2 separate regions of the Homo sapiens genome follow, and region 1 is linked to region 2. The links come from fine-mapping of genetic effects on gene expression. A gene starts in region 2. The other region holds a variant in brackets. All regions are shown on one strand. Distances are from middle to middle.

Evidence for each region. PIP is the estimated chance that this variant, and not a neighbour inherited with it, causes the effect.
Region 1: its variant is fine-mapped to the expression of STXBP3 in fibroblasts (GTEx, PIP above 0.99).

Annotation. Positions count from the first base shown.
Region 1 is chr1:108,713,155-108,729,922 of GRCh38, forward strand. It overlaps FNDC7 (fibronectin type III domain containing 7), which reads left to right. Exons shown (of 13, transcript NM_001144937.3): 2 at 357-375; 3 at 4,623-4,877; 4 at 5,635-5,895; 5 at 9,181-9,438; 6 at 12,596-12,850; 7 at 14,654-14,911; 8 at 15,478-15,732. Among named protein-coding and RNA genes, the nearest start is that of FNDC7, 8.6 kb to the left of the region's middle. RefSeq lists enhancers at 9,239-9,348, 9,369-9,428. The variant C/T (reference allele first, on the strand shown) is at 8,202.
Region 2 is chr1:108,736,816-108,750,823 of GRCh38, forward strand. STXBP3 (syntaxin binding protein 3) reads left to right here and starts at 9,859. Exons shown (of 19, transcript NM_007269.4): 1 at 9,859-9,971. The coding sequence starts at 9,923. FNDC7 (fibronectin type III domain containing 7) reads left to right here. Exons shown (of 13, transcript NM_001144937.3): 11 at 680-709; 12 at 4,958-5,026; 13 at 5,110-5,934. The coding sequence ends at 4,989. RefSeq lists enhancers at 9,538-10,108, 9,631-10,040 and a silencer at 10,241-10,360.

The DNA of each region.
Region 1 (16,768 bases), 22 kb before region 2:
TTAATGCCATATACTAGAGAAAGAAAACAAGATTATCATTATATTTTAAGAACAAAGATTTCTGAAAAATCTGTCAGCAGCTACTGACTTAGTTCAATAGGCAGATTCAAAGGGGAAAAAAATGAAATAGTAATGGGATCTGCCTCCAGCCTCTAAATTCTATTTAGAGTTGTTTTGTGGTAGATTTGGGTGCTGGGAAATGATTTGTGTGGAGAAATACTTGTATGGATTGAAAGACTGCTCACGTTAGATGTAAAAATGTTGTGATTAATTTATTACCGCTTTTATTCATGTTTTACGTTTGTTCAAGTTGTGTTTTTCTGTGTGGTTCTAATTTTCCAAACTTTCCTTTTCAGGTTGCTTCAGCAAAATCAGGTACAATTTTCTGACCTGCAAGTTTTTCCTTCTCGTATTTGATTTTAATTTCCATTGTTAATTCACGGGCTACCCTGAAATCTAAAGGCTATATGAGAAAAAAAAATTCAATATTTTCTGAGCACTCACACTGGGTGCTAAGCACTCTATTGGGTCCTGGGGAGACAATAACTGGTAAGACAAATAAATGGATTGAACTCGAAAGACAAATCTTCATAAAGTGTTCTTGCTGAGGACTATAATGTACAGAGCCATGTAGGCATGCATTTTCTCATATACGGTTAGCCATGTGTGAAATATTACAATGATCATCATTCCAGTTAAGATATTGTACAGAGTCTAATTTATACAAATGTTCTTGTTTATCTTCCGGGGAATTAGAGGGAAAATGAGAAATGTTATATTTGATTAAATTGTCAATATTCCCTACTTTAAAAAGAACTTTATACTTCTAATATTGCATATTTGAAATATAGACAATAGTCACTCAGGGCTGAAAGGGGACCCTCTTTTAAAAATAGTTGATCTCCATCTTTCTTGAGTAGATAACCGAAGGCAAAAATAATTTATCTAGAGGCCCCTCCTAGCTCATTTGTGCTAGAAATCTAAGTACCTGGAATGGAAATTTATTTTTAGGAGGGTTAACTTATCTGTAGGAACCACATAATATCAACCATATCACCGATAAATTCTCATAGTGATTCAACATAAATTAGAAAAATTTTTATTTATTATTTTGTCTACACCACAGAAAAGGAAGTGAAATTAAGACAGTTAAAAAATTTGATACAGATACATGTCTGAGCCATGAAATTTCATAAAATTCATGCATATACAGTAAGTTTTTAAAAATTTCTATTTCCTGGCCAGGTACCAAGGCTCACGCCTATAATCTCAGCACTTTGGGAAGCCAAGATGGGAGGATTGCTTGAGCCCAGGATTTCAAGACCAGCCTGGGCAACATAGCAACACCCCACCTCTTGCTTTATTCTTATTTACTTGTCTTATTCTTGAGAGATCTTTAGGATTAGCCAGGAAACTATAGGAGGGTCTGCTTGGCCATATACAAAGTGGCATTTTTTTTTTTTTTTTTTTTTGAGACAGAGTCTCTGTCGCCCAGGCTGGAGTGCAGTGGTGCAATCTCGGTTCACTGCAAGCTCTGCCTCCCAGGTTCAGGCCATTCTCCTGCCTCAGCCTCTCCGAGCAGCTGGGACTACAGGCACCCGCCACTACCCCCGGCTAATTTTTTGTATTTTTAGTAGAGACAGGGTTTCACCGTGGTCTCGATCACCTGACCTCATGATCCGCCCGCCTCGGCCTCCCAAAGTGCTGGGATTACAAGCGTGAGCCACCGCGCCCGGCCGGCTTCTTAAATAAGTCGACTTTGGGTGGACAGAATCTAACTCTGCCGTCTCTTACAAGGTCCTAGCACACCCAGGACAGACCAAGCCCTCAGAACAGGCCCCTTTTTGGTGTTTATAGCATCTGCACTAATCTAGAGAAATGGTGGGTCAGGCTAAGCTACTGATGCTGCTGCTAATTGACTCAATTGCTAATTGAGTCCCGGCTTTTCAACAGATAGAATGTGTTTTAGCTACACTGTATAGAAGGTTTCATTTTGGTTGTGTGTGTTTTGATTCTCTTTGGGCTCTGGTATTGCTGTGTATCTGTGTCTGGTCACTGGGGCCTCGTGGGCTAATTTAGATCTCTTTGAGCTGGTGGAATGCACAGATGCTGAGAATCAAAGGGTTCATTTTTGACTGACCAGAGTGGTTGGTTGCACATCTAGGGAATAAAGTTTTCTCTTTCATCAGTCCAGTCAGTGGGCTAAACATAGAAGTAAGAAAGAGTAAGGAACTGCTGCTATTTTATGGACTTTACACTCCAGCTTCTCATCTACTAAAGGGCAACATACTACATAGGTGTTGATCTCATTTCATTGTTGATGCTGGTCACAGCCTGCCCTAAAACCAGGTGTAAAACAGACAATCTCTCTCTCCAGCCTGTGTTTGCCGCATACTCCTCAGAATCCCACTTTCACAGGACCCCTCCATGGCAGCGCCATATGGTCTGGCTTTTCCGAACCCATCAAAATTTACTTGTCTTGGCTCATACACAAACATGCGCGTGCGTGCGCGCGCGCACACACACACACACACACACTTTCCAAGTGCCCTAACATACATTATTTCACTTATTCTTTACAACAATCCTAAAATGCAGGTATTTTAAATTTCAAAGTAAATCCTAATATGTAGGTATTAATAATCCGTATTTGTCAAGGAAGGTAACAAGTCTAGAAGAGGTAAAATGACTTGCATGCCTTCACACACAAAAGTAAATAGCAGGGCCAGGGCTCAAACCCAGAGCTCCTGAATCCAAACCCTTTGCTATTTTCCCACCACACAACCCCGAGTTTCATTCTGTGATACTGGCTTCCTGCATTATGACTTCCAAGCAAATGTGCCTCTCCTAGATCAATTCCATGAGGCCAGTTTTGTGGAGCCCGCGGGCCCCATGACAGGCCTGTGGGGAGAGGGTCTGTGTCATGCTAGCCTTTTAGATGCCTTTCAAACTGCTCCGTGAATGCATGATCCGGCCTCCTGTGTCTGTGGCCAGTTTGGCTGTCATTTTCCCAGGAAGTTAGTTCATTCCAATGAACAGAACTGGTAACATAGGAGATAAGATTAACTCTGGGGACAGAGGAAACAGAAGGAGTTGAGAGACACCAGAAAATTAGAGGAAAGAAGGCATATAGCACAGGATCATTAGCTTGGGGAGCAGAAGAGAGGTGTGTGTGTGTGTGTGTGTGTGTGTGTGTGTGTGTGTGTGTGTGTGTGTGTGTGTTGGAAGAGGGAGCCCCTGCTGGGGCTTTCTATTCTGTAGGGGAGAGAGGGAGCGAAGCCCTTTCCTATAGAATTGGCTTCCACTGGCAAGTGGCTATGATGAGCAGGCCTGAGATTTTCCTCCAGCATATATAAGTGTCATAATTTTCTTTCAATGGCAAAAGAGACTATCCTGGGTGATGTTCAAGGAATGTCTGGCCAGGGCACAGAGGAGACTTTGTTCATTTTTGCAGCATGGTTATTTCTGAGATGCTGCCAAAGCTAACTCTCTGGGCTATTGGTACAGAAAGAGAAAGTTGTCTGTATCGTGCACATAGGGACTTGGCTCTGGGAGAAGGGGAGCTGATGCTGGAGAATCACCTGTCTGTCTTTACTCCTTCTCCCTCTTTGCCCTATAGTTCTGCTTGTTTGTCTTCCCTTTAGTTTTGAATTTGACATATAGTGATTTTACCCAGCAAGTGGAGTACATTAAACCTGAAAGTCCAAGTGCCAGTTTCAAATAAAACTCAGCTATTTTTGTTTGACCTTTTCTTCCACTTAGATCTCCTATATCCAAGACATTTTTGCATCTATGGAATTTTGTAAAGTAGTCAATCTGATTACTGTGCTGTATCTCCTACTCCATACTCCTGAGTGTAGGAATGCTTTGTGTAAGCCCATGACATAAGCATTCATATCTCCTGGCAAACCATAGCCCGGCCCATCACATTCTTATGCTGAGGCAGATATTGTGATAGAGAAAGGGAGAATAAAGTTTACTTTTATTTTGTATGGAAGAATCTGAGAATTATTCCACTCTGATAATATGAAAGAAAGTGCTATGGAGTAATTATAACAAAGAACTCAATCCTCCCTCCTTGCTCCATTGGATTAAAGGTTATCTGGAAAACGTGCAAAGTGCATGAGAGAGTGACCGCAGCCACTGAGCGGAGGCAGGAGGAATGGAGATGGGTCCAGCTGGAGGCAGTGGGATGGCTGTGGGACCAGGAGGGGAGATCAATGGCAAAGCAGCCTGCAAAAGTCACAGAATGCCCAATTGGAGTAGAATACTCTGGAAGAAAGCCTCTCAATTATTCTCTCTCTCTTCCCAGAGTTCTTTCCCGTAATTACTTCTCATTCTTATTTAGCTCTTTTAAAAGTACAAAAAGTGCAAATTACCCCACAGGCAATTGGGGAAAACTTTAAAATCCCATCCCTGAATGAGAGGTTTGAGCTTTCTGGATCTCTTCTGGAGAGTAGCTTTGTCTTTCTTTTTCTCTGTTTTTCCTTGATCTGAATAATAAGGGCAAAACTTCTGTCTGAAGGAAGGCATGAGAATGATTTAGCTTGAAGAGTAAAATGATGAAAGAAGTCATCCTCGTAGGTATCTTGGCTAATGTACAACTCTAAAACCTCTTTCAGCTCCTGAAATACCCACTATTGATCAGGCATATTCAAAACTCAGCAACAGTATCACTGTAGAATGGGCTACAGTGCCGGGTGCCACCAGTTACCTCCTCACGGCTGAAGACGGGGACACAGTCATTGAAACCACGGTGGCCAATTCCCCAGGCACTGTGACGGGACTAAAGGCTGCAACCTGGTATGAAATCACCATCAGATCCATCAGCGCTGCTGGGAGAAGCCAGGCGTCACCTCCAAAGCAGGCAAAGACAGGTGGCTGGATGGATGCTCATCCTCCGTTGAGTGTTTGCTTGTGACTTGGATCAGTTATCCTGGTGCTGCAAATGCAGAATGTGATTTGGTGTCACATGAGTGCCTACAATTCAAGGCCCAGAAGTGAAAGCTACCAAATGATGCTGTTTGAGAATTCAGCTATCTGCGGAGGAGGTGGCATTTAAATGCCAGCTGCTTTGCTTTGGAAAATAAAGCCCATTTCTGGGCATCTTTAAAAGCATCCCAGCTTTTAAATCTCTGAAATAGGGATTTCTGGTTTTAACACGCCAAATGAAGAACACAGAGAAGGGATTTTGCTGCACTCTGACCGTATGGCATATATGTTAACAAAACAAATAAAAGCATTTGGAGTTTGTCATCAGCATTACTGAAATTGATTTGATAAAGTTGTACCTAGGCATATTTCTGAAAAGTTATGTGCACATTAAAATGGTGTAACCCCTAATTTTCCCATTGATTTATATTATGATTATAGGAATGTTTTATCTAATTTCTGACTAACTTCAGTTAAAAGTAGTGCCTGATATTTAGCGTTTCTCTGTTTCCCATTCCTCTGCCAAGTCATTTATGATTAGTATACACTTAAATAGCAATTATTTAATGAAACTTTGTTGTGAATGCTCTTCTAAAGCAAATAATTATTGTATATTATGGATATCAATTTACTTGCTTCTAAATTTGAATTATCCTCTATTGGACTTTGGTAACACAAATGCATGTGTTTTTATTTTTTTAGTGTTGGCTGCACCAATTCTAGAAGTAAGCTCTCCAAGTTCAGACTCCATTCTTGTGCAGTGGGAAGCTGTATATATGGCAATTGCATTCTCCGTGTCCATTATGCGAGCCAATGGCTTGGGGAGTATATGGAAAGAGAATACTACAAACACCTCCTTGACATTCACCAGTTTAGAAGCCGGAACTCTCTACACCATAAAGGCCTATGCATGGAATGCCAACAGAATCCCTGGGGATGACTCCACCTGCAATCAGAGAACAAGTAAGAACTTCTCAGCTCAGCCTCGAACAATTCTACTTTTGATTAATGAGGGGGGCTGTGTGTTGCAGCCATCAAGGGCAGTGTTACATGACAAGTACAGAGCAGCTGGCAACAGCTATTTAAATTTATTATAAAGTTATTTATAGTGCCTTGTCTATTCCTCCTCGGTAGTTTAAACGCTTCCTGCATGGATAAAGAAATGCTACTCAGAATGCACACAGCATGGCTCCGCCCTCTAATATCCAACTCAATTTCAGCATTCACATTCGACCTCACACAAAAGAAGATGATTCTTGTTAAGTTTACCCATCACCCCTTGTCCCTTTCTGGGTTCAGGCCAATTAGTATAAGAATTGGGCCAAATAGGAATTCATTTGTTCAGCAGATACTGAGTGAGTGTGTGCCAACTTTGAGCTGGCATTGTTCTAGAGATACAGCAGCAAGCAAAGCAAGGTTTCTGCAGGCACAGTGCTTGATGCTGCAGTGGAATTCATGTTTCAGATCTGTTTCCCAAAGGCCTCAGCTTGGGTCTGAAGTCAGCATGGGGCTTCCCACTATTGCTCCTCCAGCTGTGGGGAGAAGCTGAAGCTTGGTGTGCATTTTCTCACCGTCCCACCTAGAGGTCCCCCGAGCAAAGGACTCTGCAGCATTACAACTGGAGGTCCAAATTGAGCTGCTGGAGTGAGCCAAGCGAATGAGAGAGAGAGAGAGAGAGAGAGAGAGAGAGAACGAGAGGGGGTGTTTTTTCTTTCCTTGAGGCAGAGTAAGCCATCCACTGGCAATGTAACCTACATAGATAGGAGACTCTCACCAACCAGATTAGCTGTTTCTCCACTTGGGGAGGACACAGGAAAGGATGGAAAGAAACCAGAAATGTTCTCTCCAACTTTCCCTAAGTTTGGAGGGGAATGGAAGCCCCATAGTGTATGGGCCAAGGCAGAATGTAGGGAGAAGAGAGGGGTTTGCCTTTTATACTATTTCCCTAGGGAGGTAGTATAATCATAGCCCTGCGGTGATTCATGACAGTCTTGGTGAGTCAGGATGTCTGTGACAAGTCAGTCTCCCTGGGCCTTTTCCTAGGCTGGCTGGCTTGCTTTCTTCCCTCCTTCCCTTATCTTCCCCTCCTGTCCTTCCCTTTCCTTTCCCTTTCACACTGCTTTTTTCTTTCCACATTTGTTGAGGGCCCACTGTGTGCTGGGCATAAGTTAGCTGATGGAAATACAAAAGCAAATAAAGCATGATCCCTCCATTCAAAGAATGGACTATGTCAAAGGAGAGACCAATGGTGAGTCAGCGTTTCCAGTTTCACCTGACCAGTGCTTTGGCAGAAGGCTGCCGACACAGCGAGGCACAGGAGGCAGCATCTTCATCAGGCTGGGGCACTGAGACAGCATCCCCTAGAATAACTTGTTTCTTAAAGACTTCCCCTACATAGGTTTCCCCATGTTTTACAAAGCTTTACAGAGTTTAGATTTCACCTCTGGATTAGTTTCCTAGGGCTGCTGGAACCACAAACTGGGTGACTTGAACAATAGAAATGTTTGGTTTCATGGTTCTGGAGGCTACGAAGTCTGAAATCAAGGTGTTGGCTAGGTTGGTTCCTTCTGAGGGATGTGAGGAAGAATCTGTTCCAGGCCTCTCTCCTTGGCTTGTAGATGGTTATCTTCACATTCACATGGAATTTTCCCTATATATGTGTATCTGTGTCCAAATTTATTCTTTTAATAAGGAAATCAGCCATATTGGATGAGGGCCCACCCTAATGATCTCATCTTACCTGATTACATCTGCTATGACCCTATTTCCAAATAAGGCTACATTCTGAGAGTACTAGGGGCAAGAACTTCAACATATGAACTTGGAGGGAACTCAAGTCAACTCATAACAGGCTCTCACTACTCTACCTATTTTTCCTAGTTCTCCCATGCTTCCTGTGGGAAAAGCAAGTTGCCCTAAAACACTGCAGGCTACCCCTACCAGCCCTGGGCCCAGCACTTCCCTAAAGCAGAACTGCCTCTGCAGACTAGCTGACCATGCAGTGGGAAGGGGCCTGTCAAGATGGCCCACGGGAAAATCATGGCAGATGCCTGCCTTACAGAGAATGAGTTAGGTCCTCATGTCCTCAAAGAGGCCTTCCCGGCCGGGCACGGTAGCTCACGCCTGTAATCCCAGCACTTTGGGAGGCTGAGGCGGGTGGATCACGAGGTCAGGAGATCAAGAACATCCTGGCTAACATGGTGAAACCCCGTCTCTACTAAAAATACAAAAAATTAGCAGAGCATGGTGCCGGGCGCCTGTAGTCCCAG[C/T]TACTCAGGAGGCTGAGGCAGGAGAATGGCATGAACCCCGGAGGCGGAGTTTGCAGTAAGCCAAGATTGCGACACTGCACTCCAGCCTGGGCGACAGAGCGAGGCTCCGTCTCAAAAAAAAGAAAAAAAAGAGGCCTTCCCTGTTTGTCCCAGACATGTCCAGAGGATGCTGGTCTCTGCTCACAGACTGTTTAAGCAGTTTCCTAAGGCCTGCTGCGTGGGCGTTATTACAGTACAGATTCCAAAGAACGGAGGCCAATTTCTCCCCTCCCCAGGCCAGGACACCTTCTTACGCTTTTTTAATGCGGTAACTCTTAAGAAAGGAAGGTATATTTACAAGAATGTAGGGTTAAGTGTTTTGGAGACACTAAAAGACTGCCTTAATATGTATGCATCACACTTGACACCTTCCTTCCTTCCTTTTGATAATGAATGGAAAGAAAATCTGCTCCTCTAGAAACAATTATGACCGAAAAGCTATTACAGTAAAAGTTGTAGCAGATGTCAAAAGTAACGAAGGGATATGTTTAGTTTCATTGATCAATAACAGAAAATATTTGACCTATCACTTAATAATAACGTACCCACGTGGCCCTTTTAGTTCTCCCCATTTATAATTTCATTTAACTATTTTAACTACTTATTAAATAATGCATTAATTCATTCAAAATATGTCTTTTGGCACCTATAGGTGTTAGGCATGGATCTTATTAGATCTATTTAGATATAAGAAAAAAATAAATAACAAAAAGGGTAAATAATATGGGGTCAAGGTCACACAGTATATTATGAGTTTGCATAGTAGCAGATGAATTACCAGTTCCCAGGCATCATCCTAAATCCCAATTTTATGCTTTGAACACTTGTAATTATCCAACTATTGGGTACCTTATCCTCCAGGCTCTGCAACATTGTTATGCCAACTCTTACGTAGTTTGTAAGGCTACTACAAAATCTTAATTGTTTCTCTAAAATGTAGGTCCTCGGGCCCCTGCCAACATTCAAGTCTCTTTCGATAGTGGAGCTCTGAAGGCATCTTTTTCCTGGGCACGGGCAGAAGGAGCTTTCAATTATACTGTGATGGCTTTGAGCGACTCTTCAGAGCTGACCTGCAGTACAACTTTCAGTTCCTGCACCATCTCTTCCCTCCAGTGTGGAACTGAATACTTGATTTCAGTTTTAGCAAGTAATGATGCTGGATCTAGCAAATCATCTTCAGCAATGACCCTGAAAACTGGTATGTAAACAAGAGTGAGACTGCTGTCGGGCTTGCAGCCCTGACTGCTGTAAGGGAGACGTTCACTGACAATGTTTCTGAATACTCTGGAAAAAATGAAAATGAAAGCCTGGTCTAAATGAAAGCATAGAGTTGGACATTCTCATGAGTTTGAATAATATTGATAGTGAAGCGAGATATTGTGTATTGCAAAAAGCACTTTTTGGAAAATTAGGAGGCCTGGTTTCTATTCCAGATCTTTCATTAATTAGTTTTTTCTTTTTCCTTTGTAAAGCTGTGAAAATTCTAAGATGTGATTTGAGTTGTACACAGCTCTAACTGTGCATACAGATAACTGCGTCTTCTTTGCGTCATGTCTCATGTCCTAGGCTTGGTGGGAGCCGCCATTTTTTAAGAAAAAGATAGGATATTTCTAGTTCTGAACATGCGTTTAGATATTTTTCCATTTTCATTCTTATCAGAGAGATAACCACATACACATGTGGAAGTTGACTCCTCTATTTAGAAATATCTATGTGTCTTGGGGATGGAAACTAACACTTAATGAAACTAACACTTAATGAAGACCTACTATGTCTCTGGCACTATAAGTATGTTATTTCATTTAAATCTCATGACAACTCAGTGAGGTGGGTTCTATTTTCTCTTTTTTTACATAAGAAAATTGAAGCTCAGAGAAGTTAAATAATTTTCCTAAGGGCACACCGATAATAAGTGGTAGAGCTGAGATTCAAGCTGCTCAAGTTTGCCTAATTCCAATGCTTAAAGCCAAAGAAAATGTTGACAATTACAATAATATCTACTTTATCTAACAGTCAGTTATGTCATTCTAAGTTTAAAAAGCTTCTGAACAGAAAGAAAAGGAGCTGTCATCAAGTTGATGCACTCCATTCCACAGGAAAAAAAAAATAAAGCTATTCTTTCAGGCCCGCACTCTCTTATAGTTATGTTAAATTAAGGTCAATGATAACAAACTTGATGATTTGGCTTCTCTTTTGACAACTGTGATTTAATGTGAATGGTACATTAGAAGCGATTATGAGGACAAGATAGCTAAGAGTGGGAGAAGAGAGAAAAAATACTTTCAAAAGCATAGCAGTTCTGAGTTACGCAGTTAGGCATTTAATGCAGGGGAGAACCATGCAGAGTTTTTAAATCTTGGACACACATTAAGAGCATCTGGGGAACTTTTACAAAATCCCAATACCCAGGTCCCACTTAAGACCAACTGGAGTTGCTGGGAATAGAATTTGGATATGAATAGTTTGTAAAAGCTCCCCAGTTGATTCTACTATGCAGTCAGGGTTAAGTGCCATTGAAATAATCCTTCACACTTAACAGGTCCAGGATGTTCTAAGGCAGTTTGTGTATAACACAGTCATGATCATAGGGATGACCTTGACTTATTAATAAAAGAACTATGTTTACAAACTACGGTGTGTCTCCTGGGGCCCAGAAGTGTGTAATATATTTCGGGAAGATTTCCACTAGAGAAAACTAAAATTTTTAAAGCTTAGCACTTGAATGAACAAACTTTACTTGAATTCATTCTTTCAGAAGATTTTGTTCCATCAATAAATGAGGCATTATGTGGATAAATGAGGTATTGCCTTAACACAGAGAAACAGTCAATATTAATCAAATCAATACATGCCTGCTTTTGACATAGTCTAGCACTTATTGTGTGAGATAAATTTTAGGACATCTGAGAATGTCTCCTGGGTTTGTACTGAGTTGTACATACTATTTGATTTGTTCCTTATTCGTAGCATCTAGTATCTTAACTCTATGCTTAAGATGCTCCCTGGAGGATGTAATGGGCATAAGAATGTATTCTGTCATTCAGTGCATGAGAGGCTGCAGTTAGAAAAACTTTCCAGGTTGCACACGGGGGCTCATGCCTGTAATCTCAACACTTCAGGAGGCCGAGATGGGTGGATTGCTTGAGTCCAGGAGTTCAAGACTAGCCTGGGCAACATGGCTAGACCCCGTCTCTACAAAAAATACAAAAATTAGCTGCTCATGGTGGCATGCACCTGTAGTTCCAGCTACTCACGAGGCTGAGGTGGGAGGATCACCTTAGCCTGGGAGGCAGAGGTTGCAGTGAGCTGAGATCGCACCACTGCACTCCAGCCTGGGTGACAGAGCGAGACCTTGTCTCCAAAAAAAAAAAATTAATTAATTAATTAATTAAAAAATAAATTTAGGCTGGGCGCATTGGCTCCTGCCTGTAATCCCAGCACTTTGGGAGGCTGAGAGGGGAGGATCACTTGAAGTCAGGAGTTCAAGACCAGCCTGGCCAACATGGTGAAACTTTGTCTCTACTAAAAGTACAAAAATTAGTTGGGCATGGTGGTGCACACCTGTAGTCCCAGATGCTTGGGAGGTTGAGGCAAGGGAATCACTTCAGCCCAGGAGGTGGAGGTTGCAGTGAGCCGAGATCACATCACTGTGCTCCAGCCTGGGCAACCGAGTGAGACTCTGTCTCAAAAAAAATAATAAATAAAATAAAAAATAAATTTAAAAAAATAGTTTTTTTAATAAAAGAATTTTCCATGCTATGGAGGCTTTACAGATAAACCCCCAGAAAGACCCAGCTCCATTCCTTCCTACTTATGTGATCTTAGACAACTTACCAACCTCTATAAGCCTCAGTTTCCTCAATTGTAAAATGATGATAGTTGCTGGAAGAATTAGAGAATATATTAATATAAAACACAATGAATGATGTCTGTATTTTAATCTCTAAAACAGGTAACTTCTGGGATATTCATTATTCCACTCAAGCCAGACTAGCTTCATCTCTGGATGAAGTCAAATATTTCAACAAATAATCTAACGATGAAAATTTGTATGTCTTAAGATGACTATGAATCTCTGATGGCTCATTATTTCAAACAATATTTCATATAACAAGAGAATGTGAGAGGTCATTAAAATTTGTTGTAGTGGTTTGGGGCCTGTAACATAGCCTTTGGTCCTATAAAGAAAATCTTCTAATGCTTCCAGTGCACAGTTTTGCATTTTGTGCACCAAATTCAATCTGTCACAAAGCTCAGAGTTGCTAATTTGGGTTGTATTGAAATCTTGGATAATTGCAAAGATGCGAAGAAAATCTCCTGCAGTAGTCTCATGTTTATTATTGATCATTTCCTAGTTGCTTGTGCACCCGGAAGAGTGACGATCCAAGAAGATCCCCCTGGCCACCTGTCTGTGGCTTGGTCCAGTGTAGATCTGGGTGACTACTATGTGGTCTTTGTGAAGAGTGATGATGGCTTGGAAGTACACTGCAACACATCTCTCACTCAGTGCAACTTCTTATCTGAGTGTGGCTTCACTTATTTTATTAGTGTTTTTGTCTATAACAAGGCAGGGCAAAGTCCTTTGGGTGACATATTCAATTATACCACAGGTAAGTCCCATTTGATGTTTGTTAAGGGAGTTCTGAGATCTCTAACCTCAGCAGCAGAATGGATCACCTATTCCACTTATTGACTTACCACCTGGGAGTCATTCTAGAGCCAAGAACAGAAAGTAATCTCTTATCTCACATTCTTTCCAGACTAGGGAATTTTGGCTTTGTGGACCTAAGCATAACTAGACTGCAAGGTTTGGGAGTGAAAAGAGGAGAAAGAATGTAGTTGTTCAACCTTGCTCTGAAAGATTGAACTCGCCACAAAGATGTACTCAGTGAGTGTTCTAGCATGTGCTGCTGCCAGAGAGAAGGCAGTGCCTCCGTTTCAGGAGGTCACTCTTTCCCTGAGACCAAGACAGACATACAATGGCCAAGACGCTACATGGTGTGGAGGGCTTTGGAGTAGGACACCTGGGTTTACACCCTAACTTGACCACTAATTCATTCCTTCAGTGAGGATAATGATGCCCACCTTGCTAGTTCCTTAGTATCCTCCACTGCAAAATGGGACAAATCATGAAAACATGAATGTAAAAAGGTCTTGTGTGTGACAAAGCATGATGCACATATTTTTATTATTAGCATCACCGTTGCTGTTGCTATTATTCTCCTCTACTAGGCTTGCATCTTGTACAAGGCAGGAATTATGTCTTATTTATCTCTTCATCCTCAGTGCTTATAATAGTGTGATCAGCATATGGGAGATGCTCAAGTTTTGAAGAATGAGTGGAGTGATTTGAAATTAAATAACTACATTACAAATAAGAATACTCAAACATAATTATGTAAAAGTCTAGCTGAATTACAGTAAATTTTGACAGGATGAGGGATCTAAATCATTGGTGCCTTTGGAATGTGGAAAAAGAGGCTATCGATAAGGTCCCGACACGAGAGGGCCCTCCAGAGTGGCCTTGAACTGGATCTTGAAGGATGAATGGGAATGTAGGTGGGGCAAGAGCATCCCAGGGAAACTCCAAGCTGAGTCAGACATTTGCCAGTGGGGTTCTTTAGGGTCTCTTAAGACCTACCTATATACGGCCGGGCACAGTGGTTCACGCCTGTAATCCCAACACTTTGGGAAGCCGAGGCAGGCAGATCACTTGAGGTCAGGAGTTGAGACCAGCCTGGGCAACATGGAGAAACTCTGTCTCTGCTAAAAATGCAAAAATTAGCTGGACGTGGTGGCATGTGCCTGTAATTCCAGCTACTCCAGAGGCTAAGACCTGAAAATCACTTGAACCCAGGAAGCAGAGGTTGCTGTGAGCTGAGATCACACCACTGCACTCCAGCCTGGGTGGCAGAGCAAGACCCTGTCTCTTTGAAAAAACAAAACAACAACAACAACAAAAAAACTACTTATATAACTGTGAGCCCTACCCCCCAGTTTTATTTGGTTTACTGTCTGGAAAGGCTGACAGGATCTGAGAAGTTAGACTGCATATGATTTTACCAGGCAGAAGAGGGGAATGGCTTTCCAGTGGAGGGGTCAGCAATCTTCTCTGCATAGAGAACAAGGGCGCACGTGGCGTGGGGGAATTGAGGAGTCTGGTGTGGCAGGGAGTGGGGGGAGTACAGCAGAACCTTATAGCTTGCAATGACCTTCAATGTCATGCTGAGGATTTACCCTCTATGCAGTGGCAATTAGGCCAAGATTGGACCTTGACAGACCCATAGGGAGTCACTGTAGTCATCAGGGAGGGCAGTGGCAGAGGCTCTGGGCATGGGAGGTCAGGACACAGTGTACCCCCAGCTGCATTGCTCTTGATGGGACCGCCATTTTCCCTCTGCTCCTGCTTTCAGCTCCCTGTTGTCCTAGTGACATTAACCCCGTGTTGGTGTCCAGTGACAGAGTTGAGATTGTCTGGTCTCCTGTCCGTGGTGCCGAACTGTATGAAACCAAGGCTGTAGATGGGTACAACATGGTTGAGTGCAATGACACTACTCCTGCGTGCACCCTTTCGGCTCTAGAGTGTGACACCAAGTACAACATCACAGTGTATTCATTCAATGAAGTCCGAGGCAGCAATATGTCATGTACTCCCCAGTTCATAACCACAGGTAAGGCACAGCTATCATTCCACTCACTGGTGTCTGAATGATTCACCCCAGCTCTGAGCCTCAGGATGGGCATTCAGTGAGACCAATAAAAAGGTTAAATCCCATTAATCAATCTTTGTGGAGACCAAGAGAGCCCCCGTTGTACGAAGGAGAGGCAGAGGAGAAGGCAGAAGAGGAAAGTGGAAAAAATGAAAACAAAAGGGGAGACCACGGGGAGAGTAGAAGGTTTTGCCCATGATGACTTCAGCCATTCGGTTCCTCCTATCTTTGAGGGGCCTGCCTGTACTCACACCATGAAGGTGTATAAATATGTTTCTTACTTACTTTTGCTTTTGGAGTTCACAATGCTTTTAAACATTTTCCAGCTAGTCCAGTACTCTATGAACCCAATGCCCTGTGTTAATGTCAACAGTTCCCCACGCATAGGCACTATGAATTTGGCCCGCATGCATGACGTGGTTGAAAACTGTGATGATCTCACTGGGGGCAAAATCAGTTTTAGACCAAATGGCACATGTGATATTTTTGACTCATGCTGGTTCAATTAATACTCTAAAATGTCTTAGCTCCTTGCAGTCCTGAAATAAAAAATGTTTCAAGGGATGCATTCTCCATGATTAATGTGCACTGGCGATCCACTAATGATGATGCTACTTACACGGTGACTGCCCAAGGGGAGAAAGGACTGTATCAGTGCAGCAGCACAGGAGAGTCCTGCACCATGCGGGGCTTGCCCTGTGGCTCAGTGTTCTCTGTCACTGCTGTGGCCGAAACACAGGCAGGACGGAGCCTGCCCAGCTACAGTGTGCCCCTGGAAACAGGTATGTAGCAACCACCAGCCTGAATGTTGACTTCAGTGGGGTCCTTATGGAGTGTTTCAAGACATGAACTTCCTTATTTAATCTACCCTCAGTGCAACAGAAATACATTAAACTCAGAGACGTTTCAAAGAGTCCCGGTCATAGACAATAAAATTTTCAATATTTTACAAGTTCTGTAAAAATATCCTCAAGACTAGTATATCCATTCACTGGCATCAGAGAAGGAATACTTACTCATTCTGCAAAACATTTATTTGAATTCATATTCCCCTATGATATAATCTATCGAAACAGCTAACAAATGAGTAGCCAAATGAGCTGGGTTGTTACTTATTTCTTTGGCTCAGCCCTTTCAAATTTTTCTCTTTAAAAAATGCTTTCTGGCCAGCATGGTGGCTCACGCCTGTAATCCCAGCACTTTGGGAGGCCGAGGCGGGCAGATCACGAGGTCAGGAGGTCGAGACCATCCTGGCTAACACGGTGAAACCCTGTCTCTACTGAAAACACAAAAAATTAGCTAGGCGGGGTGGTGGGCACCTATAGTCCTGGCTACTCAGCAGGCTGAGGCAGGAGAATGGCGTGAACCCAGCAAGCGGAGCTTGCAGTGAGCAGAGATCATGCCACTGCACTTCAGCCTGGGCAATAGAGTGAGATTCCGTCACAAAAAAAAAAAAAAATGCTTTCTGACTTTCAATTTCCTGATAGGTAAAAGGGAGATAATGGCCTCATAGGGTGGCTATGAGTATTAAGTTGACTAATGCTGCAAAGCACTTAGCATAATGCCTGATGCACAGCAAGAGCTCCATAAAAGAAAACTATTATTACAGCGTAGCATTGTGTATGAATGAAACGTGGCAAATCACTTCAAGCCTGTGGACATTAGTTTTTCTTATATACAGTGATAGATGGCACTTTGGACTATAAAAGTTGAAATACCTAAAAAAAGAAGCCAGCAGTAAGATAGAGACCATACAAAATACTGCATACGTGAAGATGTTAGGTATCCTATATTCGGGTAATGGGTCCCTGAAAAGTC
Region 2 (14,008 bases):
ATCAGTGATGTCTTATTCTGATAATCAGGACAATATTGTAAATGACAATAACGACTAATGTTTATTGAATGCCATGTGCCAGGCACTGTTCTAAGGGGTTTACATATATTAACTCAGTCCTTACAACAAACCTATCAGCTTGGCATTCTTTTTTTTTTTTTTTTTTTTTTGAGATGGAGCCTTGCTCTGTCACCCAGGCTGGAGTGCAATGGCGCAATCTCAGCTCACTGCAAACTCCGCTCCCCAGGTTCAAGTGATTCTCCTCCTCAGCCTCCTGAGTAGCTGGGATTACAGGTGTGCACAACTACCATGCCCGGCTAATTTTTGTATTTTTTGGTAGAGATGGGGGTTTCGCCATGTTGGCCAGGCCGGTCTTGAACTCCTGACCTCAGGTATCTGCCCACCTGGGCCTCCCAAAGTGCTGGGATTACAGGTGTGAGTCACTGCGCCCAGCTGAGCTTGGTATGCTTATTCTTACTGCTTTTCAGATAAATTGAGGCACAGTAAAGTGACTTGCCCAGGTCATACTGCTAGTAGTATCTCCTTCTCTTATCACCCAAGTTCGTTCTTGTTCGTTTTTTGGTTTACTTTCCTTTTATTCTTTCTTAAGTTAAATCTTCACTATCTTAAATACATAAATGAATAGATTTTATTTTAAATGCTTGTGTTTTTATTACAGTAACTTGCTCTGGAAGTACACTTGGAATGGGTAAGTCATTTTTCTCATGGATAAAATAGAACAGGATTTTTGTTGCTCCATTTTGGGGTTAATGAAGTCAGCTGACTTTTCAATTAGAAAGCAAATGCTTTCTTTCTTTGATACAAGGGGCTCCTGCTCTCTTATCCCATGACTTTTTCTCCCCATTATAGTGCCTCCTCTGAGATTCCACCAGTTGAGATGAATTTCTTTGAATTCTGAAGTCTTTTTAGTATTCTAGGATCCTACAGGAAAATGTAAATAGTTTTGGGAGGGGCAGCGGCTTCATCCCTCACACTTCAGAAAGTGATTCCCAGCTCAGCTGTACACTGGAGTCACCTGGAGAGCTTAAAATTAACTGATGTCTGGTTCTGTCCCCAGAAAGTTTGATTTAATGGGTCTGGGGTGAGAGCTGGGCATCAGGAGTTGTAAAAGCTCTTCAGGTGATTCTGAAGTATAGCCAAGGCTAAGAACTGCTACTTTAGAGCCGTGCTTCTCAAACTTTATTGTGCACACACATCACCTGGGGCCTCGTTAAAGCCAGATTCTGATTTGGTCGGTGTAGGAAGTGTCTGAGACTCCGTATTTCCATAAGGTCCAGGTGATGCTGGCGATGCCGAGGCTGCTGGTCTGACCACACATGGAGTAGCCAGGAGTTAGAGAGAATCTGTTAACGGCCTGCAGAGAGCTACGATGTTTGCTCCTGGTTTGCATGAGTGGGTATACCCCGTGGAGAGAGAGGGTGCTGAAAGGGCAGTTGGAATAAAGAGAACCCTCACTGCCTCCTTGGTTTTGCTCAGGGATGATCTTGTCTAGGCTATTTTGGTTGCCCCCACAGAGATGACTCTTGGCAGGGCAGTGGAGATGAGCAAATGGAGCCATGAGTGTTGACCCAGTAAGCAGTGTATGCTGCCTCATGAGGAGTCCTTGCCACAGCCTTTTAGGGGACAGCTTGGTCTGGGGCCTTAGGAAAAAATCCCCTGGGAATATTATCAACCCCAAACTACAGAACTTCTCTCCCGCCCACCCCCACCCCACCCCTCCCCATTCAGACATGGCTGATTTTGAATGGTGTGAGTGTAAATGAAGCCTTCTTGCCCGTAAACCCCACTGGACAGCCTTCCAGTCGGGGCTGGCTCCCCACCCACACCCCCTTCCACTGGCAGGAACTGGGTCTAGAGTCTCCACTCCCTGTTCTCTGCCTGGGCTCCCTTCCTCTCCCAGTCTATTGCTTCTCTGAGCACAGCAGGTTACACACTTTTCAATTCCTGTCCCACCTGCAGGTCTGAAATAAGCACAATCCTTATTAATTTTTCAAGAGTTTTTGTTTTCTATGACTACAAAAAGGAACAGACTTGGCTTACTGAAAACAAACTGTGAGGACACTTCTAATTATAAAAAAGTCTCCCAAAGTAGTAGAGACCATACACCCTGGTCTTCAGTGAAAGGTACATGGACCTAGGTCTGCATTCTTTAATCAGTATCTCCCTGAGACATAGAGGTGTGGTAGAAGTGTCCTAGGTCCCCAGGGGAGAGGAGTGGTGTATGATATATTGGCCTTGCCTATGATTTTGTTCAAGGAAGGGTTTCAAATAAAAACAAAAAAAATAAAAATGTAAAAATGTAAAAAAAAAAATTTAAAAATGTTTGAAAAGAAAGAATGTCTATGTTTTAACAAAAAACACAAAAGGTGGGGTGGCAAGGAGAGCAGGCATGGTGGCTCACGCCTGTAATCTCAGCACTTTGGGAGACCAAAGCAGGATTGCTTGAGCCCTGGAGTTGGAGACCAGCCTGGCCAACAAAACGAGACCTTGTCTCTACAAAGTGTAAATAAAGTAGCCAGGCATGGTGGCATGTGCCTGTAGTTCCCCTGTAGTCCCAGCTACTTGGGAGGGTGAGGTGAGAAGATTGCTTGAGGCTGGGAATTCAAGGCTGCAGTGAGCTATGATAGCACCACTGCGCTCCAGCCTGGGTGACAGAGTGAGACACCAGCATCACCAGAGAGCTTTTTAGAAATGTACAGTCTTGGGCCCCATCCTGACCTACTAAATCCCCAGGTGATTCGTGCATGTATTCAAGTTTGAGTAGCACTGCTTAGGTACTGCTCTTAAACTCTGCTGTGTATTAGAATCTCCTGGACAGTTAATAATGAATGCAGAGGCCCAGGTCCTGGCCTAGTGAAGTGCCTCTATATTTCCATCAGGTTCCCAGGTGATTTTGATACACATGAAGTTTGAGGAGCACTGCTTTAGATCACTAATGTCCTCTTTTCTGTCCTTCTAGGCTTCAGCTTATCTTCACCATTCCCTTCCTTAGCCAGGGCTCAGTCTTTAGCCTGAAATCTGCTACTCTCTTGAAGTAGATATTTGTAGAAATCCTGTAGGAGCCAGACACAGTGTCACACACCTGTAGTCCCAACTATTCAGGAGGCTGAGGTAGAGAATCACTTGAGCCCAGGGGTTTGAGGCCGACCTTGGCAACATAGTGAGAGCCCCCTGCCCTCAACGCCATCTCTCTAAAAAAAAAAAAAAAAAAAAATCCCGCAAGGCCCTCCAAAAACAAGAGTAAGCCAGATTATTTGAGGGTTTCTAAGGTCATATGGAAGTCATTATATCTAGGGGGAAATTCTAAATTGCTGTCTTCAATTTCAGCATTTCCCCTCCCCAAACACAGAGCAAGTCCAATCAGGTCCCTGGGCTGACATTGGAGCCTCTGGATATGCTGAGGGGAGCCATGGGAATCTTGCTGGTCTAAGGTTTTCTTTGGGTTTTCTTTGACTCTTGGAGTATCCTAAAGCTTTTCAAACTTTTTTTTTTTTTTTTTTTTTTTTTTTGAGATGGAGTTTTGCTCTGTCATCCAGGCTGGAGTGCAGTGGTGCAATCTCAGCTCACTGCAACCTCCACCTCTGGGATTCAAGCGATTCTCGCGCCTCAGCCACTTTAGTAGCTGGGATTACAGATGTGCGCCACCACACTTGGCTAATTTTTGTATTTTTAGCAGAGATGGGGTTTCACTATGTTGGCCAGGCTGGTCTTGAACTCCTAGACTCATGCGATCCACCTGCCTTGGCCTCCCGAAGTGCTGGGATTACAGGCGTGAGCCACCGCACCGGCCATAAACAGACTTTTTAAGAGAGATCTGGATTCAAATCCTGCCACCATCACTTGCTCTTAGTCAAGTTGTGTAAATTCTCTCTGAGCCTAGGTTTCCTCATCTGAAAATTAGAGTAAATAATAATCCCTCATAAAAGAAAATCAGGATTAAATGAGAATGTAAATTATTGGACACAATAATAGGCTCATAACAACTACTTAATAAATGGTAGTTGTTAATTCATATTCAGTTTAAGCTCATATCACATTCTATTATGTACCAATTATTAACATTTTAATGTGCTACTTCTAACGAAGACATTTGCATTTTAACCTTGGTCCTCATAATACACTTCCTCATTGATTCTCTAAGTGTGGTCCTGGTGCCAAAAGTATCAGCATCAGCTGGGAACCTCTTAGAAATGCAATTTTTCAGACTCTTCCACAGACCTATTGAATCAGAAATTCTGGGGCTAGGGCCCAGCCTTCTTTGTTTCAACAAGCCCTCAAAGTGCTTCTGATGGATGCTAAAGTACAAAAAGCATGGCTTTAATTCAAGAAAGCTATTTCAATGCTGGAAATTTGATGCAAGTTGGAAGGGAAAGGAAAAAAAAAACCTATTTGAGGTGATAGCGGCTCTAACAAGAGGTAGATAGATGGGAGGGGTTTGTGCCTGACATCACACCATGAGCAGGGGCTGGGGGTGTTCCTTCATCTTTAGGACCCAACATGTTTCAGTGTCACCTGTACATCCTGGGCAACTTTGAGGAAGCTTCCTCTCTGTGACATACTTAGCAGCTAAACAGGTTTATGTTTTCCATATAAAACTCCCTGAGTCATTAAAATTTTGGAGTTCCCTGAGGAGCACAGCAAGTTGGCCTGGGGGTGAAAAGGAAAGTCCTTTTGTTTTGAACCAGTGGTCTGGGATTAAAGAGACTCTGGGAGGGTTCATTTGGTGAAGCAGGAGAGAGACTGCTCTGGTTAGAAACTGCTGATCAGTTTGAACACTTTGTCAGTTGTCATAGTTTCATGTTTACTTGCCGTGAAGTGCTGCAAAAATAGCATTTCAAATCAACATACACATAAAATCTCAGACACTGGTGCTTTTTAAGAAAATGTCTGCATATTGAATGCATCTTTTACTGCTTCCCTTCCTTACCCTTTTCAGTGATTTATAGAGGGAAGAGAAATGAAGAATGACAAAGTGAGCCCCAGATAAAAACAAAAACTTGACCAAGTGAGTAACGTAAATTGATTTTGTGTGATTTTATGGCAAAGTTTTTTGTCTTTGTTTAAAATGTTTTCCCATTTGTCTTGCAGAGTTGTCTCATTTGTTAGTGATTAGAGATGGAAAAGATCTACTAGAATGTAGAATAAAAATGCCTCTAGGATAGGAAAAGCTCCTTTGGCCTTTAGAAGAACAACTCTGACTCTGCTTCCTGAGGGCAAGGTCAGGTGTGTCCTCACCTGCACAGCAGTTGGAGATCTGCTATGTGAGGACTCTGGAGAGAAATGAATCCAGAAAGTCCCCTGGACGGCTGCTAGCCTGAGTTGGCACACTGTGAGAACCCTGGAAACAAGAAAGTTCTGCTTAGCAGAAATTCTGAGATTTCACATCCACACACACCACAGACTTCAACACATCCACTTCATGAGTGTTTTACAACAGCACTTGTCTGCAGCCCCCTCAGGGGCTGGAAATGTTCACTCCCAGAAAGTCAAGCCACCCACATGCAGACAGCACTTATCCCAAGACAAACCTCCAGCAGGACTTCAGTATAGGTTGGAAAGCAGTAGCTGCCAGGGCAACCTGAGATAACAAACGCCCTCATCGCAAGTTAGGAGCAAAGCTGAGCTGCTTGCAGGGTTCGCTGAGCCAAAGCATCAGGTGGCGTGACATCTATGGGAGCATCTGGGAAAGCAGAGCTGCCAGCCTGTTGCTAGAAGGGTTGCAGTTATGCTTTCTGCATGAGAGAAGATGTCAAATGGAGAGCCTCAAACTGTGGCCGACTGACATGCGTGCATCTTTTGGGGGAGGACCATCCATCTTATTGGCCATATCCCCCACTCATATTGTAATTACTTTTTTCATCTTTGGAGGGGGAAGGCAATGAAATATAACATAAATCTCTCATACCTAAAAAAGTTTGTCCTTCAAATATCAGTAACCTAATTTAAAACATGTGAGTAGACTTGTATAACACACACACGCACATGCACACACACAGTTATAGTGCTTGCTCCCCAAACACATGGCTATGGAGCCAAGCATGTCTCTAGTTAGGAACAACCATAAAACTCTGCCCAGGGGGAATTGGACCATGGAATTAGGCTCGAACTAAGCATGGAAGAAAGAACAAACTTCCCTTTCTGTTCTCTCAACTTCCTATCAACGTGCGCTGCAAGAGAGAAGTGATATGCTTTCTCTATGAGACTGATCAGAGATACGTAATGGGTCACTAATAAGAGATCTTCCCCAGAACATCTGTACATGAACAGAGACAAGCCAAAGGTATATATCTCTAAAAATGGAATTGGAAGCATCAGAGAGCACACCTAATACCCTACAAATACCAAGGCACAGAAAGTGAAATAGCCATCTGCCTAGCTAGGCACCTAAGGCTGAATTGTTTTGGTCAGAATGTCACAGAAGAAAATGTGATCCACAGTGGGTAAAGATAAAATTAGGTTATTTAACGTGTATATAGCACAAACTACCAGCTTGTAAGTGCTCTCCATATGCTCGTTTTATTCTCATAACAACCCTACAAGCTAAGTAATAACATTATCTCCTTTATACAGGTAGGGAAAAACGGGCCCAGAAAGGTCAAGTAGCCCACCCATGTTCACACGGCTAATCAGTTCAAACACAAAGTTTCAGGGAGAGAAGTAAGTAGCATTGGTTAGACCTGCTAATTCATGCTATCTTTCAGTTAAAATTTTAATTTTAATTATTATGGGTACATAATAGTTGTATATATTTATGGGGTACATGTCACATTTTGATACAGGTATACAATGTATAATGATCAAATCAGGGTAATTGGGGCATCCATTACCTCAAGCATTTATCATATCTTTATGTTAGGTACCCATGATATCTTTTGTTTTTTTTTGTTGTTGTTGTTGTTTTTGTTTTTTTGAGATGGCGTCTTGCTCTGTCGCCCAGGCTGGAGTGCAATGGCGTGATCCCAGCTCACTGCAACCACCACCTCCTGGGTTCAAGCGATTCTCCTGCCTCAGCCTCCCGAGTAGCTGGGACTACAGGCACCCGCCACCACGCCCAGCTAATTTTATACTTTCAATAGAGACGGGGTTTCACCATGTTGGCCAGGATGGTCTCGATCTCTTGACCTTGTGATCCACCCGCCTCTGCCTCCCAAAGTGCTGGGATTACAGGCGTGAGCCACCGCGCCCGGCCTCCCATGATATCTTTATGGAAAATATTTCTCTAGATTATTATGAATAAGTGATCGCTTATTAGAGGAGATCTGGGAATAGGATAGTGAGTGAGTGATCTGCCCTAACTCAAGTGCGTGTACATTCAACCCTCGGTTATTTTGGCCATTTACCTGCTCTGAATTATACAAAGCAGCTTTTCATCCCTGGCCAGTGTTAGCAGATTTTACCTTCTACTTTGCTGTGTCACATTTAGGGAATCCAAGTTCATTTTTCAATTTGTTTAGGCAAGCAAACTAGAGGAGACGTAGAGAAACTGCTTAGGGAGCTTATGCAAATCTAGGGGAGCCTGGGAGGATAGGCAATTTGGTACACTAGAAAGAGCAATGGCCTTGGAGCCAGATGGATCCAGATCCTAGCTCATTTTGAGATTTTTCATGATTTATTTAACCTCCCTGAGACTCAGTTTTCTCATATGTAAAATGGCAATGGTCATCTTGCTGGGCTGTTGCGAGGTTTGAGATAATATATTCATATTCAGCACACAGGTGCAATGAAACTGAGGTGTTTGAGGTCACACTGCTAGTAAGAGGCAGAGCCAGATTTTGTAGGATGTAAACCTATGCCTACGTGCAGTTAAAGACCATGCTTGCTCCACTATTCCGCAGTGCCACCAAGGACTCTGGCCTTCAGGAGCATGAGCCAGAACTGCACCCCATGTGACCAGAGTCAAACTTCCAACCCAGAGGGACCTGTATTATTCCCTGGCACCTGGTCATTCTCCTGAAGGGTAAGAGATGGAGGCACCTCACCCATCTCACTCTTCCCTCTTGGTTTGGCTCTTCAGAGCAAGGGGCTTCACCTCAGAAGGGTGAATTTTCCCTGGCACATATTTTTCTTATGGATTGGGGCTTCACCCTGCTAAACTAAGCAGAACCTAACTTAAAATGAAAAGGGAGAGGGAAATCATATGTGCACTTGTTTAAAACATTGAGCAACTGAATCAATTTAGAGTAGGTTTAAAGGAGGTCAGGGCTCCAGCTTCTATTCTCATATAAGCCTTGAACAGAAAAACCACTCAGCCATAGGTTGTGCCAGAACCCATTTTATGGCCTTTTTTATTGTTAGATACAGGGTCTCATTCTGTTCCCCAAACTGGAGTACAGTTGCATGATCATAGCTCACTGCAGCCTGGAACTCCCAGGCTCAAGCAGTCGTCCTACGTCAGCCTCGCAAGTAGCTACGACTCCTCAGCTTGCAGGTAGCATGCGCCATCATGCCCAGCTAACTTTTTTATTAATTTTTTTTTTTTTTTTGGTGGAGACAGCAGTCTTGCTATGTTGCCCAGGCTGGTCTTAAACTCCTGGCCTCTATCAGTCCTCCTGCCTAGGCCTCCCAAAGTGCTGGGATTACAGGTGTGAGCCACCATGCCCAGCCTGTTCTTAATTCTTCATTTGCCTTTCCTCTCCTAAAAATTGCAGGTTACCCCACAGACTACTCTATTGCTTTCCATGTAGCCCAAGCCTGATCTTTGTTCCCACTCCACCACTAAGTGCATCCTTGGCAAGTTACTTGACTTCATTAAGCCTCAGTTTCCTTGTTGTAAGTGTTGCTTTGAGGATCAGTGAGGTAATCTACTTAGCATGGTGCCTGGCATATGGTAAGTAAGCACTCAGTAAATATTAGACATTATTATTAGTAGTAGTATCTAACCACTTCTACTTCCCTGTGTGACCAATTTGAATCTTTACAGCCACTGGTTCTTTGCAAATCCTTCTAGGAAAGCCTACTTTCTGCCAATGTCACATGGTTATCTCACAGTTAGGGCTCTTAGCAACTAAACTGATCTCACTTACGTTTGATTACTTTGATTTAAAGTCCCAAAGGAACCATCTCAGTAAACAGATCTCTACCTAAACTTTCTGAGCTCAGATCTCCTCCTCTGTGAATCAACTTTCAACAATAATTGTAGATTCTGAAGCATTAACAGGCCCTCCCTACATTTGTTGCATAAATTTGTTAATAAATGATTATTCTTTTGTTGGTTCATTTATGTATATCTTATCATTAAGGCATTCAATTTTTAAACTAAGTTTTAACTACCTGCAGCATTCCAGGAATTGTGCTCTTTAATTAGATTGTAAATTATTCAGGGGAAAGAGTTGATCTCTCATTTCTTTGAGTTTCCTAAAAGTCCAGCACAGTTCTTGGCACACTGGAGGGAACCTCACAGTTCTACGCAATTACTGTGTCCTTGAAAAAATGAATGAAATAATCATTTGGGGACAGTACATTTTCCATTGGGTAGTTGGGCTGGCTACTGAGTGAAGTCTATTATGAATCGCCTTGCGAAGTGAAGGGTTCTTCTGTAATGGGGAGGATCCTCCAGTCTTCGTGTATGTGTGAACTCGGAATTTCATAGACGGCCTTGGCTCACGATCGGTTTGGCACTTCGCGTTCCTAGGCCACAGGACGTCGAACCTCGGGCGACAGCAGCCTCCCGCTAGGGGGCTCCCGACTTCCCACGGAGGTTCCACCTGTACTGCGCAGCCTCCGTCCGGGAGTGGGCGGAAATTCCCTTGCTGACGCGCGTGACGTCACCGGAGGGCGCGGTCTGCTAGAGGGGGTGGGGCATTCCCCTGCAGCAAGGGGCGGGGCCACCCCAACGCCGCTTCTGCGGCCAAAGTAGGTTGGGAGTGGAAGGTGGTGGCTGCTGCTCCGCAGTGTCGGGAAGATGGCGCCGCCGGTGGCAGAGAGGGGGCTAAAGAGCGTCGTGTGGCAGAGTGAGTGCGGTGGGGTAGGGGTTGAGAGAGGGAAGGCCGGGAGGCTGCCGTGCCGGGCCTCGTTTTGCAGCCCCAACCCAGCGGTCTGTTGAGGAGCCGCCGCGAGCACTTGTTGCTTTGGGACCTGTGTGAGGACTTCTTCCTGCTTTCCTGCCCTGCCTTATTCCTTGCCAGCACCAGGGATGGGCGGGGTGCGACGGGACGCGGCCTTCTCGTTGGCGTCGGGCACCCCCTCGCCTCGGCCGCGCTCTGGCCGCGAAGCTCCGCCCCGGGTGAGCCGCCCGGCCCGGCTTTCCCTCCCGCGGAGCCCGTGCGTGCCCTCGGCCGCGCTCCCCACTCTTCTCCGCTCCCGTCCGCGCTCCACCAGTTGGGGATGTCTCTCCATCCGAGACAATTCGGGCGCTGTTTATTCCGCCCCCATCTCCACCCCACACTGGAGTTTGCAAGGACTGTTTATTCTGCTTATTCGTGTTAGTATCAACCCGTGCTTTTCAAAAAACCTCACTGTTTAACAGACTCATCTTCCCCTATTCCGAGAGGAGCCTACTTTCTGAAAAGTTCTTGAGAAGAGACCATTGGAATGACCGGTGTCCAGCCGTGACATCTTCCTGCATAGCCTGGGCAAGAGCCGCTCCTTCCGTTTTCCCTACTCTCGGGGGCCCCTCCCTGCTGTTAGGACCGGACTCCTTATTGGTTACTGATGTTCTGCGGTATCATCCACAACTTTCATAAACATCGCTCCAAACCTAGGTCTGGCAGGTTAGAGAAAGAATGAAACCACCCAACAGGAATAACCATCATTGTTTGGTATCTCTGAGTTCAAGATAATTATGGCCTAGTAGTGGAAAGGGAGTAGCATCTAATTAGTATTTCTTAGTCCAACTTGTTGAACAAAAAACAAATGATTTAGTCAGCAGAATTCTGGGAGTTAGAGTTCCTTGTCTAAAATTAAAAATCCAAATCAGTAACTGGGATAGTGCTTAACATATAGCAGGCACTAAGCAAATGTATAAATAGGTGAAAAATATGAAATTATCTTTTAAAAGATTAGATAATTTTAAGGTTGGCATTTGCTTTTTCAAGATTTACATGGCTGACTTAAGATTTGAGATGTTTTAAAACAATGGTATTTAAATACATTTATGTGAAAATGGGTAACAAATTGTGTTGTATAATTTCCAAGATATATATGTGATTAACATCCGCATGTATGTATTTAAGCCAGTTCTTTACATATTGAATCATAAGCTTTTCCCTTTTTCACATTTTCCTTCTGATCCTCATACAGATAAAGACATTGTTTTTATTATCTGTCATTCTGTGACTTCCTTTTTTTTAAACAACTGACATTGACTCAACATTTTTCATGTTGCTTCACAATCTCGTAATTAACATTTTAAATTGCTTTTTAAATACCTTGAGGTGGCAAAAAATTTTGATAGCAGAAAAGAAAAGAAAAAATTATGGCCAGGTGCAGTGGTTCACGCCTGTAATCCCAACACTTTGGGAGGCCGGGGCAAGATGATCACCTGAGCCTAGGAGTGGGCAACAAAGTGAGACCCCATCTCTACAAAAAAATTTTAAAATTAACCATGTTTGGTGACATGCACCTGTGTTCCCACCTACATGGGAGGCTGAGGCAGGAGGATCCCTTCAGCCCAGGAGGCTGAGGCTGCAGTGGACATTGATTGTGCCACCGCACTCCAGCCTGGGTGACAGAGCAAGACCCTGAGTCTAAATAAATAAATAAATAGCTAGCGTAAGCCCGGGCACAGTGGCTCACGCCTGTAATTACAGCACTTTGGGAGGCCAAAGCAGGTGGATTGCTTGAGCTCAGGAGTTCGAGACCAGCCTGAGCAACATGGTGAAACTCTCTCTCTATCAAAAATACAAAAATTAGCCAGGTGTGGTAACGCACACCTGTGGTCCCAGCTACTCGGGAGGCTGAAGTGGGAGGATCGCTGGAGCCTGGGAAGTTGAGGCTGCAGTGAGCAGTGATCATGCCACTCAATTCAGCCTGGGTGACAGAGCATAACTCAGTCTCAAAAAACAAAAACAAAAATTATTTGGGTAACTTTTGGACTAGTGGAAGATTAATTTAGAGATTAGGTAGAAGCCAGTCAGTGGAGGATGTTAAATAGTAGAGTTTAGATTTTATTCTATAAGCAAGAGTGAGCATTTGAGGGAATTTCGAGGTGTGTATTAATATAAACAAAGGGTTGTATTTCAGGAAGGTGACTCTGACAGCTGTGTGAAAAATGGATTGAAATAGCAAAGGTGTTGGAGGTGGAAAGCAGGAAATCCAGATAGGATTCTATTGCAGTACTTCAGTGAGAGAGAAGAATCAAGTCGATGCTGGGTGACAGTAGCAATGAAAAATAATAGCTACCAGGGAGAACAATCAATATGCCTAATAGGTGGGCGTGGGGAAAGGAGGAAATAGACAAAGACAATGACTAAGAAAATGACAATAATACTTAGAGAAATAAGTCTAGAGTAGTTTTCAGGGTGCTGTAATCTCAACTTGAGACATGTAGCTGCTTGTATCTGTATTGCGTAGTTGAATGAAGTTCAAAGAGAGAAAGGCTGTAAGATTGTGGAAAATCGAAAGATTAATATGATAGATGAAACTTTGATGATGAATATGGTCTCTGAGAAGACCAGCCACAGGAGCAAATTCTCTTACCTTTGCTCTGAGAACAAGCAGAGCAAAAGTAAGAGAATTGAGTCTTGAGATATATCCATATTTAGGATGCTAGAGAAATGGATATAAGGTCAAATGATTTTCATTAGTATTTAGAGGAAATACCTCCTTAGTTCTATAGTATTTGTTGATATGATTTCCTTTGACTCCTCTCTAAACATACCTACCTGTGACTGTGTCACTTTTTATGGGTGCCCTTACTATCTCCATAAAACTAGTTCGTTCTTTTAGACAATAACACTGACTCTGTAGGTATCTTCAGATTCTTTTTATTTTTTCGTCTGGCAGACACAGGTAGATCCAAGTATCTTCAGATTCCAAGACAGTTCTATCATTAGAAATTTAAAGCACATATGTAATTTTAAATTTTCTAGTAGTCACATAAAAAGGTAAAAAGAAAAAGGTAAAATTAATATATTATATTTGACCTAATAAGTTTTTTACATTCCTTTTTTTGTGCTAAGGTTTTTTGAAGTCTCATATGTATTCTGTACTTACAGGATATCTCAGTTCAGACTAGCCACATTTCAGGTGCTCAATAGCCAGATATGGCTGGTTTCCACCATCTAGGACAATGCAGTTCTAAGGTTTCAAAGACTGTAATGAGATGACTTCTGCTTGGGGAGCTTTTCTCCAATCTGCTCCATCATAAATTCCATGAGCATTCATTTCTTAAGAGAAAGACACAAATAAATCTGATAAAAACAAGCAAATGTCTTCAATTTTCAGCTGTTTGAGGTATAAGGAATGAAGCTAGCTTTGAAAGGAAAAGCAGCATAATATTTCTGTATCTGAGCTCTACCGGAGAAAATCCTTTATTTTTGCCTGTAGGGTTCTAGAAGCCAGCGCTTTTGGCTTAAATTATGGTTAAATATTTCGGACTTTCACCATAATTCTCATATAACACTATAATCCTCCTAGCAAACAATATATAATTATCTCAATTGATATTTCATAACACTTCCAAATCTTCTCAATCACAATACAACCTTCCAGATCACAATTCTAAAAATGACTATAAATAACTGAATTGCTTTTACTAACAACATTTCTGACACCAAATATGTGTTTTATTCCCCCCTCACACCAACCAGTTCTCCAACTCTGGACACCAGCTGTATTAGTGTCAGAATTGAAATGAATTGTAGGATATCCAGTTAGTTAGGAACTAGTTAGCTAGGAACACTAGTTAGTGTCAGACTCCACAGGTTTAAGGGCTCAGTCTCACAATACTGCCTTCACTTCAAATGCCAGTACCAAGTCCCTAGGTTACCCACACTTCTGTCTGTCTTGGCTACAAAGTCAGGAATTCCTACAACCTCCCTTCCCTTTC